2 separate regions of the Homo sapiens genome follow, and region 1 is linked to region 2. The links come from fine-mapping of genetic effects on gene expression. Tissue or cell type: whole blood. Region 2 holds a variant in brackets; the other region holds the start of a gene. All regions are shown on one strand. Distances are between the middles of the regions.

Evidence for each region. PIP is the estimated chance that this variant, and not a neighbour inherited with it, causes the effect.
Region 1: it holds the start of GIT2, and the variant in region 2 is fine-mapped to the expression of GIT2 in whole blood (TOPMed, PIP above 0.99).

The regions. Positions count from the first base shown.
Region 1 is chr12:109,991,400-109,999,503 of GRCh38, reverse strand. It overlaps GIT2 (GIT ArfGAP 2), which reads left to right and starts at 3,136. Exons shown (of 20, transcript NM_057169.5): 1 at 3,136-3,331; 2 at 7,744-7,877. The coding sequence starts at 3,280. ANKRD13A (ankyrin repeat domain 13A) reads right to left here and starts at 74. Exons shown (of 15, transcript NM_033121.2): 1 at 1-74. RefSeq lists silencers at 1-80, 3,396-3,485 and enhancers at 161-350, 2,966-3,125, 3,816-3,865.
Region 2 is chr12:109,861,177-109,869,280 of GRCh38, reverse strand. All of the region lies in intron 1 of GLTP (glycolipid transfer protein), which reads left to right. It also overlaps the pseudogene RN7SL441P. Among named protein-coding and RNA genes, the nearest start is that of GLTP, 15 kb to the left of the region's middle. The variant TG/G (reference allele first, on the strand shown) is at 3,104.

The sequences.
Region 1 (8,104 bases), 130 kb before region 2:
GGACCAGGTCGGCCGCGCCCACCCCGCGCCCCGCGGCGTTCCCGCCCGCGCTGACAGCTCGCGGACAGACTTCTGCGGACCTAACTGCCCCAAACAGGGAAGTGCGGAGAGCGAACCACCGCATGCCGCGGCGGGGATAGGCGACCTTGGGCACCGGGTCCGGGGTCCGCGCCATTGCACCCACCTCCAGCTCACACCGAGAAACTCAGTGCAGCCCACAGAACAGAGCTGAGGCTCATTCTCTTGGCCAAAGATCTCCACGCGGAAAGTTCCGTCTACCTGTCCCCAGCTTCTTTCCCCCTGCTCCAGTAGCCCCATGTGGTTCGGTCCACAACTGGGCCTCTTCCATTGGCTCTGAAGTCAGGGGGTGACAACTGAGCCCCGGACCAAACCATTCCAGCTGCCGACACCCTTGCAGCCTTTTTGGAGCAGGACAGATGCTTCCACGACGGGTCAAAAGCCATTTTGGAAGTGGGCAACACCGGACAATTTTTGAAGGAGGAACGCTAAACCCTGGCGAAGTGGCTTCAAATACAGTATTTGCATAAAAGGGGATATTTCTACTTCATGATTTCTCAACCTCGGCACATATTGAACTGGGCAGTTTTTGTGTGGGGGTTGTCCGGTCCTTGTAGGATGCTGAGCAGTTGCCCTGGTCTTTCTCCCCACTCAATGCCAGTAGCACTCCCCAAAACATGTCTCTCCAGATATTGCCAAATGTCGTCTCGGGGAGAAAAATCGTCCTCAGTTGAGAACCGCTTCTATTTGAACTCCGAACCGGGTTATGATTCAATAGCTAACTATGGTGGTGATTTAGTCCATGTATGAATGTCATTTTTAAGCTAGCTTTTTGGATTTGAGGTTATGGCTGAAAGGACTGATAAATAATATACATATTTGACCACAGTCTGCGAATATGAAGTTTATTCTTTGAGTTTCAGGCACTATGCCTCCTTGACTCAATGAAGAACCAAATCAACTTACAGCTAGCTACTCATGGGCTTGAACTTTCTGCTGCTGCTTCAGCTCAGCTGTCTACAACTAGACCACATAGCTGGATGAAGCTATTTAATGCATTGTGAAAACATTCCCTCTGCCCTCTGAGTGTATGCACATCCAGCTCTTCAGATGCCTGCAACAACAGCTGTTCAAGAATCCCAACCTAATCCATTCTCCACAGATGTGGAGCCCAGAAGATTTGTGAGTTGTTAAACCAAAACAGGATGCAGGAGCACCAGGATGGCACCCGGAGACTCTAACCATGGAATGCGTGGGAATTCTGTGATTATTTCTCCATCACACATTTATCACACTGTAGAGATGGACTCAAGACCAGTGCTTCTGAGGCCTTTTCCAGCACTTCTCATTCTTTCAGATGCCTTTTGCAACTTAACGTTCTCCTTCTTCTTCATCATGCCGTGTTTATTGAAAATCTCCCTATCTCATTAATCAGAAAACCCCATAATGACAGGAACCACATCGTTTTGCTTACCAGAGTATCTAAAACCAAAATAGTACCTGGCTAACAACAGGCATTCAATATTTGCTGAATGGAGATCATAGCTGTGTTTATATGTAAGACAGACAATAAGTAGTCATTGGTATTAGGGTCACATCTCCTTTCTCCTTCACACTGATTTACCTCATTTCATTGTGTTTATCTCACACCATTTTGTAAATTATCCCATGTTAGCTATTGTTATTCTCAAATTCCACGCATATGAAGAAAAACAGTAATTAGAAAATAATAGCAATATCCATAATTATGGGAGCTACTATTTACTGAGGGGTTACTATCCAGCAGGTGTATCACATTTTTCCCATAATTTATTCCATCTGTCCTTAGCCAAAATGAATGTTTAACTTTGCTGGTCACATACAAGTTTTGTCGCATATTCTTCTTCCTCTTTTTCTTTATTTCCCTCTCTCTCTTCTTCATTTTCATCTCGCAACCCTTTAAAAATGTAAAAATCATTCTTAAGTAGCAAGCCATACAAAAACAAATCGTGGACTAGAAGTAAACAATGCATTATCTTAATTTTGAACATGAGATTAAAACTGAAGCCTAAGGAATCATCTAATATATTCTTTTTTGTTATTTTTGTTGTTGTTGTTGAAGTTGTTTTTGAGACAGTCTCGCTCTGTCCCCCAGGCTGGAGTGCAGTGACGCGATCTCTGCTCACTGCAACGTCCACCTCCCAGGCTCAAGCGATTCTCATGCCTCAGCCTCCTGAGTATCTAGGATTACAGGCATGCGCCACCACGCCCGGCTAATTTTTTTTTTTTTTTTTTTTTTTTTGAGACGGAGTCTCACTCTGTCGCCCATGCTGGAGTGCAATGGCGTGATCTCAGCTCACTGCAACCTCCACCCCCTGGGTTCAAGCTCCTGCCTCAGCCTCCCAAGTAACTGAGATTACAGGCTCCTGCCACTGTGCCCGGCTAATTTTTGTATTTTTAGTAGAGACGGGGTTTCACCATGTTGGCCAGGCTGGTCTTGAACTCCTGACCTCGTGATCCACCCGCCTCGGCCTCCCAAAGTGCTGGGATTACAGGCGTGAGCCACCGCGCCCGGCCAATTTTTGTATTTTTAGTAGAGATGGGGTTTCACCATGTTGCCCAGGCTGGTCTCGAACTCCTGCCTCAAGTGATCCTCCTGCCTCAGCCTTCCAAAGAGTTGAGATTACAAGAGTGAGCCACCACGCCCAGCCTGGAATCATATAATATATTCTTATTTTACTTTACCCCAGTAAAATGCAAGCTTCATAAGGACTAGAAATTCAGTCTTTGCTCACTGCTGTTTCTCCAGTGGCTGGGACAGTATATAAAGCATGGTAAGTGCTTGATAAACATTTGTTGAATCAAGGAATGAATGAATGAACTTGACCATTGATTGCCTCAGGAAGGTTGTGGCTGCAGGGTTCTCATCACAAGATATTGCTACTTCCCCTGGTATTAATCAGTTGGGACGAGGGGAATCTCTGCCAGAGAAGAAGACCCAAATTCAATATTTAAAGGTAGGACAGATGATACTCGGGCAGTCTCCTGCCCTCACTCAAGATGGCGACAAGGCAGAGTGCCCTTTCCGGTCACATGACCTGACACTCGCCGAAGGGCACCTCCCCGCGCGTGCGTGCTGTGCCAAGGCTGCAAGGCGCTGAGGGGAGAGGCGCCGCCGTCAGCGCCGCCGCAGCTGGGACCCGTTAGAGCGGAAGCGCCGCCGCCACCGCCGCCTTTGCTGTCCCCCGGCCTCTAGTTCCCCGCAGGTGGGAGGTGGGAGCCATGTCGAAACGGCTCCGGAGCAGCGAGGTGTGCGCTGACTGCAGCGGGCCGGGTGAGTCGCACCGGCCGGGCCCGCTCCCCTCTGCTTTCCTGGCCCGGACCCCTACCCCGGGGCCGCCCCCTCAGGTCAGGCTGCATCCCGCGGCTAGGGTCGCAACGAAGAGGTCCCTGGGCGGCCTTGGGGTGGGAACCGTCCCGGGCCTGTCAGAGCCGGGCGGGCAGGGGGCCGCCGCCCTCCCCGTCCCTCGCGGCCCTCCCTTCCCTCTCGTTCCCTCCCGTTCCCTCCGTCCTAGGCCAACTGGGGAGGTGACGGGGGCCAGGGCTGCTCCCCCAACAGGAAGGGGCTTGGGCAATCCACAGGAAAGCCAATTACAGAAGTAAAATGTGAGCGTCCTCCCGGCTGCAGCCTCCAGAGGCTGCAGGTGTCACCTCCCACTAGACCCTTTCTCCGCCTGGGTGTCCTGCCCGGGGAGGATGACACTCCCTGAGACTCGCCAGAGGGTCCCCGTAGATGACTTCCCCGCTGCTGACATCCGACAGCTACTCTGCCCGGGAGAATTGCCAGGAGATCGGGGTCTTCCAAACACAACCAGCACTTAGGAGGCAGTGCTTGTCTCAAGTTTGAGGATCTGAACGGCCTGGGTTCAAACTAGATTTTGCTTCTGGCTGACCTTGGGCTGGTGACTTCACTTGGTCACTTGCTTGATTTCCTCATTTTTTTCAATGAGGATAATCGGGAGTATCACGCTTAGTGGTGAGGAAGATTCAATGAATACTCGTAGAATCATATCATCTAAGGCTTTTCTTTTTTGCATTATGCTGTCTACAGTAGAACTCTTGTAGTCCCTTAAAGCTATATTTGACTATCTAAATCATACGTTGATTACAACGGAAACAAACGCAAAATCACCAGCAATATAGGGGCATTGAAACGCTAAAGCCATTCCTTCATAATGATGCATAACTGTTCATACATAATATTCACATTTAGAGATCAAGTGTGTCTTAGCAATTGCAACTGAATTGTCAGGTCTCTGGATAGATTATTACATGCTGTTTTAGGTGCTTGGATGTATTGGCTTTGAGTTAATTCGAAGGTAACATGGCTTTCTTGGCACAATAGTGTCCGATAAACAATCTTAATTAAATCATTGAACACCACTGGCTTTGCAACTGTTCTGATCTTAAGCTTGTCATTTGGAAGTGGAGACCAATTGTAAATAGAACTGTGATAACTCAAACCTCATGTGGTTGTTTTATGGCCCGTACAGTGCAGGTGTTACCAGTTTCCTTTGAAGATAGGGAGGGGGTATGGAGGAGTTTAAAAAGAAGTGTTTTCTAAACCAAGTTAGTGTGAGTTATACAAACTCCATCATTTTCTCTAAAAATGTTATTTGTTCCACTTCCTTATTTTCTTGCCTATTTTCAGTTGAACTTACCGTGATGTATTTGATTCACATGTGTCTAGCTTCTAACTTCCTCTTGGAATGCATATTGTTTTGCTTCTTGATAGGGTACAGGGCAAAGCAAAATTGTTCCTCCATTGCCATCCTAAATATACTTTTGCAGCATTTTGTGCATTTCAGAACATTTTCTCTTCCATTGTATCGCTTTAGTTGTTGTCTCATACGCCTAATCTGCAGAGACTTGAGTCACTTCCTTCCTGTTTTGAATATAATTAGGCTACCTTGAAATATTCTGTGAAATTGAGCAGCTGGGAATTTGTGCTGCCTTTTCTGCACAGCCCTACTGAGAGAATTACCTGTAGGGTTAGGGACCCCTTTGAGATTCTGTTGAATGCTAAGGCCTTCTCCCCTAAAATGCACGTGAACGAATTTACCTAAGATTTGTCTGGGGGAGTCACAAACATTTTTGAAGTTCATTTGTGGTGTCCCTGGAGCCCTGGCTCCAGATGAACTTAAAGGGTTTTACCCAATCTCATTCATACAAACATTTTTATTTTACTATGTTAACATTCTAATATTCTTTCCATGGGATTCTGATCCAGGATGCTAAAGTGGTTAGTCGAATACTTGTCTTAATTAATATGTGTTAAATACTTGCTAAAAAAAGAATACTGCAAATCCTCTGAATAAGTGAAAACCAAAGCTATGCTTCAAAACAGTCTTTTTTTTTTTTTTTTTTTTTTGCCATTAGTGTCAGTACTATACTGCAGGAAGCAGTGTTGTTAATGCATCTTTGTAGAGCTCCTTCATCTGGACATTTCCAATCTCTGCTTTTTAGGATGATACAGTAATAGCGACAGAGTTATACTAAATTGAATTATTTTGATTCTGTTTTATTTTATGCAAACATTTAACCATGATCACATCTTCTTAAATATTCTACTTTTTTTTTTTTAATGAATCTGGTTCATTTCAAATACATCACACTCTGAGTTCAATTACTTGAAAACTCCATGGAGATTTTCAGTACAGTAGTAGAGTGGTCACATGAAATGTTCAATGTTTTAAGTATTTCCCATCAAAAACTTTGTCCAGTGATCATGAATTTCACGTCTAGAAAATATCTGAATACTGAGAAAATAATTTAGAAAAGATATAACAACTAACATTACTACTTTACTATGTGTGAGGTACTTCACTTATTCTCTATATCCTTACTATCCCGAGATTTGTCATTGTTCTCATTTGAACCATGGTGAAAACACTCAAGTAACTTGTCTGAGATCATTGTGCAAGAAGTGGCAGAGTTGGGGTTCAAACCCTGAACTCCTTGTCTCTAGAGCCAACCCTCTTAACCACCATACTCACTGGCTCCCAGGATTCGTCTTTGATTGAAAGCCCATAACTTTTCATTATATGGTTTGAAAGGGTTTGAATAAACTCTTAAAAAATGGTAAAGATGGTGTACATGCATTTTAGAGATTTTTGTGGACATTGAAGAATTTTTAAATGTAACCCTTTGACCAGGCAGCTTAAGTGGCACCTATTGTCACCCCATTGTGAGTCTGACGAAGTATAGCTCTTTCTTTATTTGAGGTTTCTAGGTATTCAGTTTACTTACCCAGATCCATCCTGCTTGCCAAGTATGAAATTATTCCTTGTTTCAAAGGACAGCTAATGAAGCTCTATGACTTTAAAGGGAAAAAAGTATTATACACACACTAAAAATATTATTCATTTTTATTTTACATCTTTGCCTCTGTGAAGCTGCTGTTATTGCAACTTCTTTTTTTTTTTTCAGATCAGTTGCAGGATTGGACTTGGTAGTTTATGTAAAACAATTAATTGGCTGGGCACAGTGGCTCAAGCCTGTAATCCCAGCACTTTAGGAGGTCGAGGTGAGTGGATCACCTGAGGTCAGGAGTTTGAGACCAGTCTGGCCAACATGGTGAAACCTCGTCTGTACTAAAAATAACAAAAATTAGCCGAGCTGGTGGCACACACATGTAATTCCAGCTACTCGGGAGGCTGAGGCAGGAGAATCGCTTGAACCCTGGAGGCAGAAGTTGCAGTGAGCCGAGATTGCGCCACTGCACTCCATCCTAGGGGACAGAGTGAGACTCTGTCTCAAAACAAACAAACAGACAAACAAACCAATTCATGGACATCATAGAACATTTCCTAATGGAAGAGGCCAGGTTTCCCTGTCCTCAGAACCATAGCAGCTGAGTGATTTTATGATTCTGTAACTCGCAGCTTTCTGCTAAGCATATTGACATGTTGATTCATAGCAGTGAATTAGGACAGCAGTCTACAACATTTACTGCAGAAAATGCTATCTGCATAATTCACTGTCAAAATTATATTATCTTGGCCGGGCACAGTGGCTCACGCCTGTAATCTCAGCACTTTGGGAGGCCGAGGTGGGCGGATCACCTGAGGTCAGGAGTTTGAGACCAACCTGACCAACATGATGAATCCCCGTCTCAGCTAAAAATACAAAAATTAGCCGGGCGTGGTGGTGCATGCCTGTAATCCCAGCTACTCGGGAGGCTGAAGCAGGAGAATTGCTTGAATCTGGGAGATAGAGGTTGCAGTGAGCCAAGATTGTGCCTCTGTACTCCAGCCTGGGTGACAGAGTGAGACTCCATCTCAAAAAAAAAAAAAAAAAAAAAAAAGTATTATCTTGATTTTTATGGAGATGGATCCAAAATCATTCGTCTGTACCCTCTCAATTTGCTTTCTTAGCTTGAATGAAAAAGCATGCATCTGAAATGGTAGATCCACATTAGGGCTACAAACTGTGGCCCTGAACCAGAAAGAAGATAACTGTTTACCCAAGGCTCCCACTGGTGTTTTTAGTCTCAATTAACATTGTACCTAATCAGCCAAGGTAGGTCATACCATCCAACAAGATGACCAGCCTGATGCATTGATGAGCATACTGAAACAAAAATGTCTCCTTTTTCTGACAAACCAAACTTCAGTCATCTTTTGCCATCTGGCGGTATAGCAACCTGCTGGTATCCCTGCCACTGAGATTTCACTCTCTTTCCAGATCCTTCCTGGGCATCAGTAAATAGGGGAACGTTTTTATGTGATGAGTGCTGCAGTGTCCATCGGAGTCTAGGGCGCCATATCTCCCAAGTGAGGCATCTGAAACACACACCGTGGCCTCCAACACTGCTTCAGGTAAAGGATAAGAATTCTCCTGACAGTTGGTAATTTACATTTTAGGGCTCATCATGTTAATAACTTAAATTTCTCCTGGTGTACTTCTTCCATAAGACAAAACTGTTTCATAATTGAATAGAGATGGCATGCCCATCAATGCTATTTACAAATATTATCTGTATTGAATTCAGTAAAGACTTTTCTTCCTACTTGACATAAATCTTGTTCAACAAGCTCAATTATAG
Region 2 (8,104 bases):
CCAGGCTGGATTGCAGTGGCGCAATCAATCTTGGCTCACTGCAACCTCCCCATCCTGGGTTCAAGTGATTCTCCTGCCTCAGCCTCCTGAGAAACTTGGATTACAGACGTGCACCACCATGCCCGACTCATTTTTGTATTTTTAGTAGAAACGGGTTCACACTATGTTGGCCAGGCTAATTTTGAACTCCTGGCCTCAAGTGATCCACCCGCCTTGGCCTCCCAAAGTGCTGGGATTACAGGAGTAAGCCACTGTGCCTGGCCCGGGGGTGAAGTTTTTAAAGAAGTATTTTGAATTGTTTTGTAAACATTCTTTCCTCTTTAGGTAGTAGACTCAGAGCAGGAACCTGTTTTAGAAATGTAGGTAATCTCAAGGCTCGTATCCTTAAAAATAGGCCTTATAGTAAGCAGAGCCATGACAACCCGCACCCCCAGATTAATAAATGATTCATCTCCATCAGCTGTAATTTGAGTGTCTTCCATTATGATCCTTGTAACCCAAGACCTATAAAGTTAATCTGCCTCATGTGTTTAACAACTGAACTTTATTATCCAGCTATGAAAAAAACCATTGAATTTGCAATAGAACCTCCCCACACCAGGCTTGTAGCATCACGACACGGGCATCCTGTTCTTCCTTTCTGGAAATGACTGTTTATGAATTGGGTTAGGTGTGTTCTGTCCTGAATCACACAGGCTGAAAGTGAAGCAAGCTGTGCATCTTTAAGAGTCCTTTTTTTTCCCTGAACATTGTTCTTGAGATGAAACGAGAGGGTAGGCCAGGGCAGGGCAATTTGGTCACCTTGTTACTCAATGTCAGGAACATCCCATGTTGTAAGAGATGGCTGTTTGAAGAGGCAGGCATGGAGGGGCAGCTTGGATGGCAACTTCCAGGTATATGCTGTGGTCTTGCTAAGAGCATAACGACCAGTACTGTCCAACTCTCTTGAGGCCAGAAAAAGAGGAAATGAGGTCGGGTACAGTGGCTCCTGCCTGTAATTCCAGTGCTTTGGGAGGCCAAGGCGGGAGGATCACTTGTGGCTAGGAGTTCAAGACCAGCCTGGGCAACAAAGTGAGTCCCCATCTCTACAAAAAATTAAAAACAAAAAATTAGCTGGTCGTAGTGACATGTGTCTGTAGTCTCAGCTACTCCAGAGACTGAGGCTGGAGGATCACTTGAGCCTCGGAGGTCAAAGCTGCAGTGAGGCCAGGCGCGGTGGCTCACGCCTGTAATCCCAGCACTTTGGGAGGCCAAAGCGGGTGGATCACGAGGTCAGGAGATCGCGACCATCCTGGCTAACACGGTGAAACCCTGTCTCTACTAAAAATACAAAAAATTAGCCAGGCGTGGTGGCGGGCACCTGTAGTCCCAGCTACTCAGGAAGCTGAGGCAGGAGAATGGCGTGAACCCAGAAGGCGGAGCTTGCAGTGAGCTGAGATCGTGTCAGTGCACTCCAGCCTGGGCGACAGAGCGAGACTCCGTCTCAAAAAAAAAAAAAAAAAGAGAAAAGAAAAAGCTGCAGTGAGCTGTGATTGTGCCACTATACCCCATCCTTGGTGATACAATGAGACCCCATCTCAAAAGAAAAAAGAGAAATTAGTGTGATTCTGTGTAGCATATGGTCACTGCTGGCTTACAGGGAATTCTGCTTTCTGGGCAATGTCACCCATCTGAACTGTGGCAGAGATCCAGGCAGGAGGCCCCAGATAGCCCTTGTCTAGTCAGAATTGTCCCAGAGGCCATGCATGAAACCCCTCATTGGTGCATACCTTCTCTTTGCAGGAGATTCTGATTCTGGTGGCTATTTGGTATTTAAGTATCTATAAGAATTTGGCTGGGCACGGTAGCTCACGCCTGTAATTCCAGCACTTTGGGAAGCCGAGGTGGGTGGATCGCTTGAGCTCAGGAGTTTGAGACCACCCTGGGCAACATGGTGAAACCCTGTCTCTACTAAAATACAAAAAATTGGCCTGGCATGGTGGCGTGCGCCTGTAGTCCCAGCTACTCGGGAGGCTGAGGCACGAGAATTGCTTAAGCTCGGGAGGCGGAGGTTGCAGTGAGCCGAGATTGCTCCACTGCACTCCGGCTTGGGCTATAGAGTGAGACTCTGTCTCAAAAAAAAAAGAATAATAAATAATTGAAGCACTGCAGGAAGAAGTAGCTGTCAACCATCAACAGGAGTTTTAAAAAAATACACAAAGTTGGCCAGGTACAGTGGCTCATGCCTGTAATCCTAGCACTTTGGGAGGCCGAGGCTAGAGGATTGCTTGAGCCCAGGAGTTCAAGACCAGCCTGGGCAATGGTATAGTGAGTCCCAGTCTCTACAAAAGGTAAAAAAAAAAAAAAAAAAAAAATTAGCCCAGCATGGTGGTGCACATCTGTAGTCCCAACTACTCTGGAGGCTGAGGTGGGAGGATTGCTTGAGACCAGGAGTTCCAGACTACAATGAGCCATGATTGTGCCACTGCATTCCAGCCTGGGCAACACAGTGATACCCTGTCTCAAAAAAAAAAAAAAAAAAGATACACAAAGCTGTCTAGTTGTCCTAAAAGCCTAAAGGCACACCATCCAGAGTCATTTAGTGACGGTTTGAGGGGACCAGTGACATTTCTGGGCTACATCTTTATCATAACTCGTATTTTTGATGATGGCCCTGTTCAGAAAGCTACGAATGGCTTCCACTATGAAAGCAGTGACATTTGTGTTACATTTTGATGAGTTCCATCCAGGATGGCTGAACTAGAATGCTGATGGTATATTCATATTTGAGAGCCAGGCACAGTGGTGCACACCTGTAGTCCCAGGTACTCAGGAAGCTGAGGCAGGAAGATCACTTGAGCCCAAGAGTTCTTGGCTGTAGTGTGCTACACTGATTGGGTGTCTGCACTAAGTTTGGCATCAATATGGTGACCTCCTGGCAAAGAGGACCACCAGGTTGCTTAAAGAGGTGTGAACTGGCCCAGGTCAGAAACAGCAGGTCAAAATTCCCATGCTAATCAGTAGAGGGATTGCACCTGTGAATGGCCACTGCACTCCAGCCTGCGCAATATAGCAAGACTCTTTTTTTAAAAAATGGTAGATGGAAAATATTTCACTTTTTTTT[TG/G]TTATTATTGAGATTAAGCATCTTTTCATTTCTATTGTGAATTGCCCATTGTTCTGTAGGGCTGTTGTTTTATTCTTACTGATTTGTAAGAGCTGTTTACATATTAGGGATATTAGCCTTTTTTCTGTTATCCTTGTTACACAGACTCTCTACTCTCTGCCCCCCTAGTTGTTTGGCTTTGGTTGGTGGTGGGATTTCTCGTCTCCCCCATATAGGAGGTTTCTGTTTTTTATAATTAGATTTATTGGTTTCTTTCCTTGTGCCTTCTGAGTTGAGTAGCGTGCATTGGAAAAAGCCTTCTCCATTAAACAGAAGGGGCCGTTTGCCAGCTGTTCCAGATAACCAAGGCTTTACTGTATTTGGAATCTGCTCACTCTAGTTGGGTCTGTGAAAGAAGATGGTGGGACCACATCTGATTTTTCTTTTTTTAAAGACAGCTTCAGGCCAGGCATGGCGGCTCACGCCTGTAATCCCAGCACTTTGAGGGGGCCAAGGCTGGCAGATCACTTGAGCCCAGGAGTTGGAGACTGGCCTGGGCAAAATAGTAAGACCCCGTCTCTATTTTTTTTTTTTTTCAAACAGAATCTCACGCGCAATCTCAACTCACTGTAACCTCCGCCTCCCAGGTTCAAGTGATTCTCTTGCCTCACCCTCCCAAGTAGCTGGGATTACAGATGTGCACCATTATGCCCAGCTAATTTTTGTATTTTTAGTACAGATGGGGGTTTCACCATGTTGGTCAGGCTGGTCTTGAACTCCGGATCTCAGGTGATCCGCCCGCCTCGGCCTCCCAAAGTGTTGGGATTACAGGCGTGAGCCACCATGCTCGGCCTGACCCTGTCTCTATTAAAAAATAAGAAGAAGAAGAATAAATAAAAAATGTTTAAAAGACAGCTTCCTTTCTCCCTGAAGGTCATGAACTAGAAAACCCTCCAAGTCCCTTCCCTCCCTCCAGGCAGACAGGTTCTGGGTGGCATTTCAAAGAGGCTGTTTGCTGACAACAATTGAAAAAAACAAGTTTGGAGTAACTGCAAAACTGGTCAAACAAGAAGGGTAATTTGGGGTTAAGGCTGCATTCTGTAGGAAAGGGAAGGCTTGAGAGCCTGGTAGAAACATGTCATGCTGTATTCAGAGCAGGCACAGGCTTGAATTTAAACTCTTAGAGGCTGGGTGCGGTGGCACACGCCTGTAATCCCAGCTTCTGGGGAGCTGAGGCAGGAGAATCACTTGAACCCGGGAGGTGGAGGTTGCAGTGAGCCTAGATTGCGCCACTGCACTCCAGCCTGGGCAACGGAGTGAGACTCTGCCTCAAAAAATAAAATAAAATAAAATAAGTAAATAAATAAAATAAACTATTAGAAAAGCCACCACATGCTTGGGAATTAAAATCGTCTTCTGGTTTCCTATTTTCTCTGAGTTCACAGGACCTCAAAGAAACATTCTTTGAGTTCAAAGAATGGTAACATTCTAGACAGAAAGGTTAAGGGTGTAGTGGAAGCAGCTTTGGCTCTGGAATTGTGTCTGAGTTCCTGGCACTCCCTGGAGTGTAACCTGGGCAAGTCATTTGGCTTTTCTGTGACTTGATGTCCTTGGACTGCACCAAAGGCAAACATAAGCCCAGAGCCTTGGGTGGGTGATGTTGAAACAGGCTTCAGCCCAACCATATACAGAGCACTTCCTGTTTGCATAGCACCTCTGGGCTGTAGAAACCGAAGGGCCTGAACCTGGAGTGGTTAAGTCACTTGGCCAAACTCACACCAGAGCTGAGATTCAAACCCAGGACTGTGGATGCCACTGCTTCAGTGCCACTGCCCAGGTTGACGCCACTGCTAATTGCAGGCAGCCCACCTCCAGATGCTTCCAAACCCACTTCAGCGTGCTTGTTTATGTAACACAGAGATGCATACAGAGCTGCCTTTCCTGCTGGTGGCTCCCTGTGGGTAGAGCATGGAAGTAGTCTGGGGTCTTGTTCCCAGCCCCTGCCTCGCCTCCCCTCTCTTCTGCTAGGCTCCCAGCCCCAGAAGTGCATTTGAGGCCCCACATTCCTCCCCTACTGTTGAGCGGGAGCTCTGGCCCTGTGTGGTGGCCCCACACACAATAACAGCTGCTGTTGGGGCCCAGCTTCTGCTGACCATGGTGGCCTCGTGACCCTCGTAGCTCATGGTTAGGAGAACACAAAACAAAAAGCCTTTCTCCCTGCCACCAGGGCAGGGCTGCTCAGAACTGCACAAGGATGCTGCATAACATTTTTCTGCATCTCTGAAATGCATGTTGAATGACCGGAGTCATTAAGAAAAGCTAATAAGCCACCCATGGTCGATGGTGATCTGTCATCAGGCCCTGCCGTCATCTCTTCTTCACTGGAAGGCTTTGGTTGAAAACCAGCCAGTGGCAGTAAAAACAATCGTGGTCAGTGCTTTGAGCCCTCACTTTGCACGTGTGACACCTCTCTCTCACAGCAGCCCTGCAGAAGAACATCCTAGAAGGATATCCGTTTTATAAACAGGGGAACTGAGGCCCAAAGTCCCTTCACATATCCTCTGTCATCTGGGTTGGATAGGTGTTTAAAACCAGTGTGTTGGGTCAGTCTGAACCATAGGAGGGTACAGAGATGGAGAGCCTGGCAGGGAAATACGCTGACAGATTCCACGTTTCCCACAGTCCATTCATTCACTCATTCATTCATTCCACAGATGTCATACAAGTACCAACTGGGGTCAGGCATCTGCTGGGTGCTGGGGGCATAGCAGGGAACCTTGTCCCTGCCCTCTTCAGAGCTCAAGTCTGGTGGCAAGATTGTTGGTTTAAAAAACAAAGGTGTAACACATGTGACTATGATCACTGTAACAGTAAAACAGACTTGAAAGAAAAAGTAGAAAAAGAAATAGGATTTTATGAGCAGAAAAAAAACCTGACATTACTTTTTTCAGTATTTTCTATGAGAAAATTCAAACATGTGGCGAAGCTGAAAGAATTTTACAGCAAATAGTACTCATACACCTATCATCTAGATGTTACCATTAATATTTTACTGTGCCTATCTATCCATATCTCTGTCCATCCATCCATCAGTCTAATGTAAGCCTTTGGACATTATGCATTTTTATTTTTTATTTATTTTTTTGAGATGGAATTTCACTCTTGTTGCCCAGGCTGGAGTGCAGTGGCGCAGTCTCGGCTCACTGCAACCTCTGCCTCCTGGGTTCAAGTGATTCTCCTGGCTCAGCCTCCCCAGTAGCTGGGATTACAGACATGCACCACCACACCTGGCTAATTTTTGTATTTTTATTAGAGATGGGGTTTCACCAAGTTGGTCAGGCTGGTCTTGAACTCCTGACCTCAGGTGATCCACCCGCCTCGGCCTTCCAAAGTGCTGGGATTATAGGCGTGAGCCACTGCGCCTGGCCCACATTTTAATTTTTTTTTAGAGATGGAGTCTCACTCTGTTGCGCAGGCTGGAGTGCAGTGACACAATCATAGCTCATTGCAGCCTTGAACTCCTGGGCTTGAACGATCCTCCCACCTCTGCCTCCTGAGTAGCTGGGACTACAGTTACATGCCACCACGTCCAGCTCATTATACATTTTGGGAAGATGAGGATGTAAAGCCGTCAGCTGGAGCTGAGGAACAGCCATACGTCTGCATGGGTTTTGCCAGTCCCCATGTAGCCCATCCATGGCACCTGCCTGGCCCCCTGTGAGGGTTGGAATTTGCACCCCCTGGCAGCACTGTAGTCACTGGCAGAGGAAAGAGGATCTTGGCTCCGGCGTTATTATGTAAGTTGAGAATGCACGGTCCTTTCAGAGAGGCAGCAGTAGCAGTGCTGGAAGAGAATACCTTCCAGGGCTAACAAGTGGCATGACCTCCCCAGGCTGGCCTCTACACGCAGCGGAGGTCAGTGATCCATCAGGTGAGGTTAAAGGGTGGCATGGAGTCGTCACCCCATTGATGCTTGGCAGGCCTGTCTGGGAGACCAGAGCACCCTGGATTCTTTGCCCGCACCCCTGGCGCAGCACCTCTGAGCAGCCTCTGACGTGACCACCCTAGGGAAGGCTCCAGCATGGCCCCTTGCTGGGAGATTTGCCTCTGCAGACGTTGGAAAGAGGCTCAGTTGCCGAGAGGAGACTGCTCGTGGCCTAGCATGACGACAGCATGCCCGGAGCTTGCAGCAGGTCAAGGTGGCAGCCCCAGCCCTAGCGGGGCCTCACAGGGGAGCACAGAGAAAGCAGCAGGGGCACAGGTCAAGGATGAGTCCCACTCGATGGAGGTTCTGGGGAATCCTGTGGCTTCCACGATGATGTCATTTGCTGGGTCACAGCACATGACCCTAGTAATGATATGAGGTCATAAAAATGATTGAAGTTCAGGTACTGAGTGTTCACCACTCACCGGGCACTCTGCTACATGTGTTTGGTGCCTTATTTTTTTTTGAGGTGGAGTCTTGCTCTGTCGCCAGGCTGGAGTGCAGTGGCACAATCTCGGCTCATTGCAACCTCTGCCTCCCAGGTTCAGGCGATTTTCCTGTCTCAGCCTCCTGGGTAGCTGGAACTACAGGCACCTGCTACCACGCCCGGCTAATTTTTGTATTTTTAGTAGAGATAAGGTTTCACCATGTTGGCCAGGCTGGTCTCAAACTCCTGACCTTGTGATCCGCCCGCCTTGGCCTCCCAAAGTGCTGGGATTACAGGCGTGAGCTACTGCGCCTGGCCTCGGTGCCTTATTTTTAATTTCTTAAAGAAGCATATGAAATAAGTACTACTATTGCCCCATTTGACACAAGAGGAAACTGAGGCACACAGCGGCGAGGAGACTTGCTTGGCTGGGGAGTGGTCGTGCAGGATTCTCACCCTGTCTGGCTGAATCCCTAGCCCACCTTCTTTCCATTGGGCTATGGGCTGTTTCCTTAAATGTTTAATGCTGTTTCTCTCATGCACCTCTTTTCATAGCTGCAATTAGAATGTTCCAGATGGCTGGCCAGGTGTGCAGGGTCACCCTGGGTG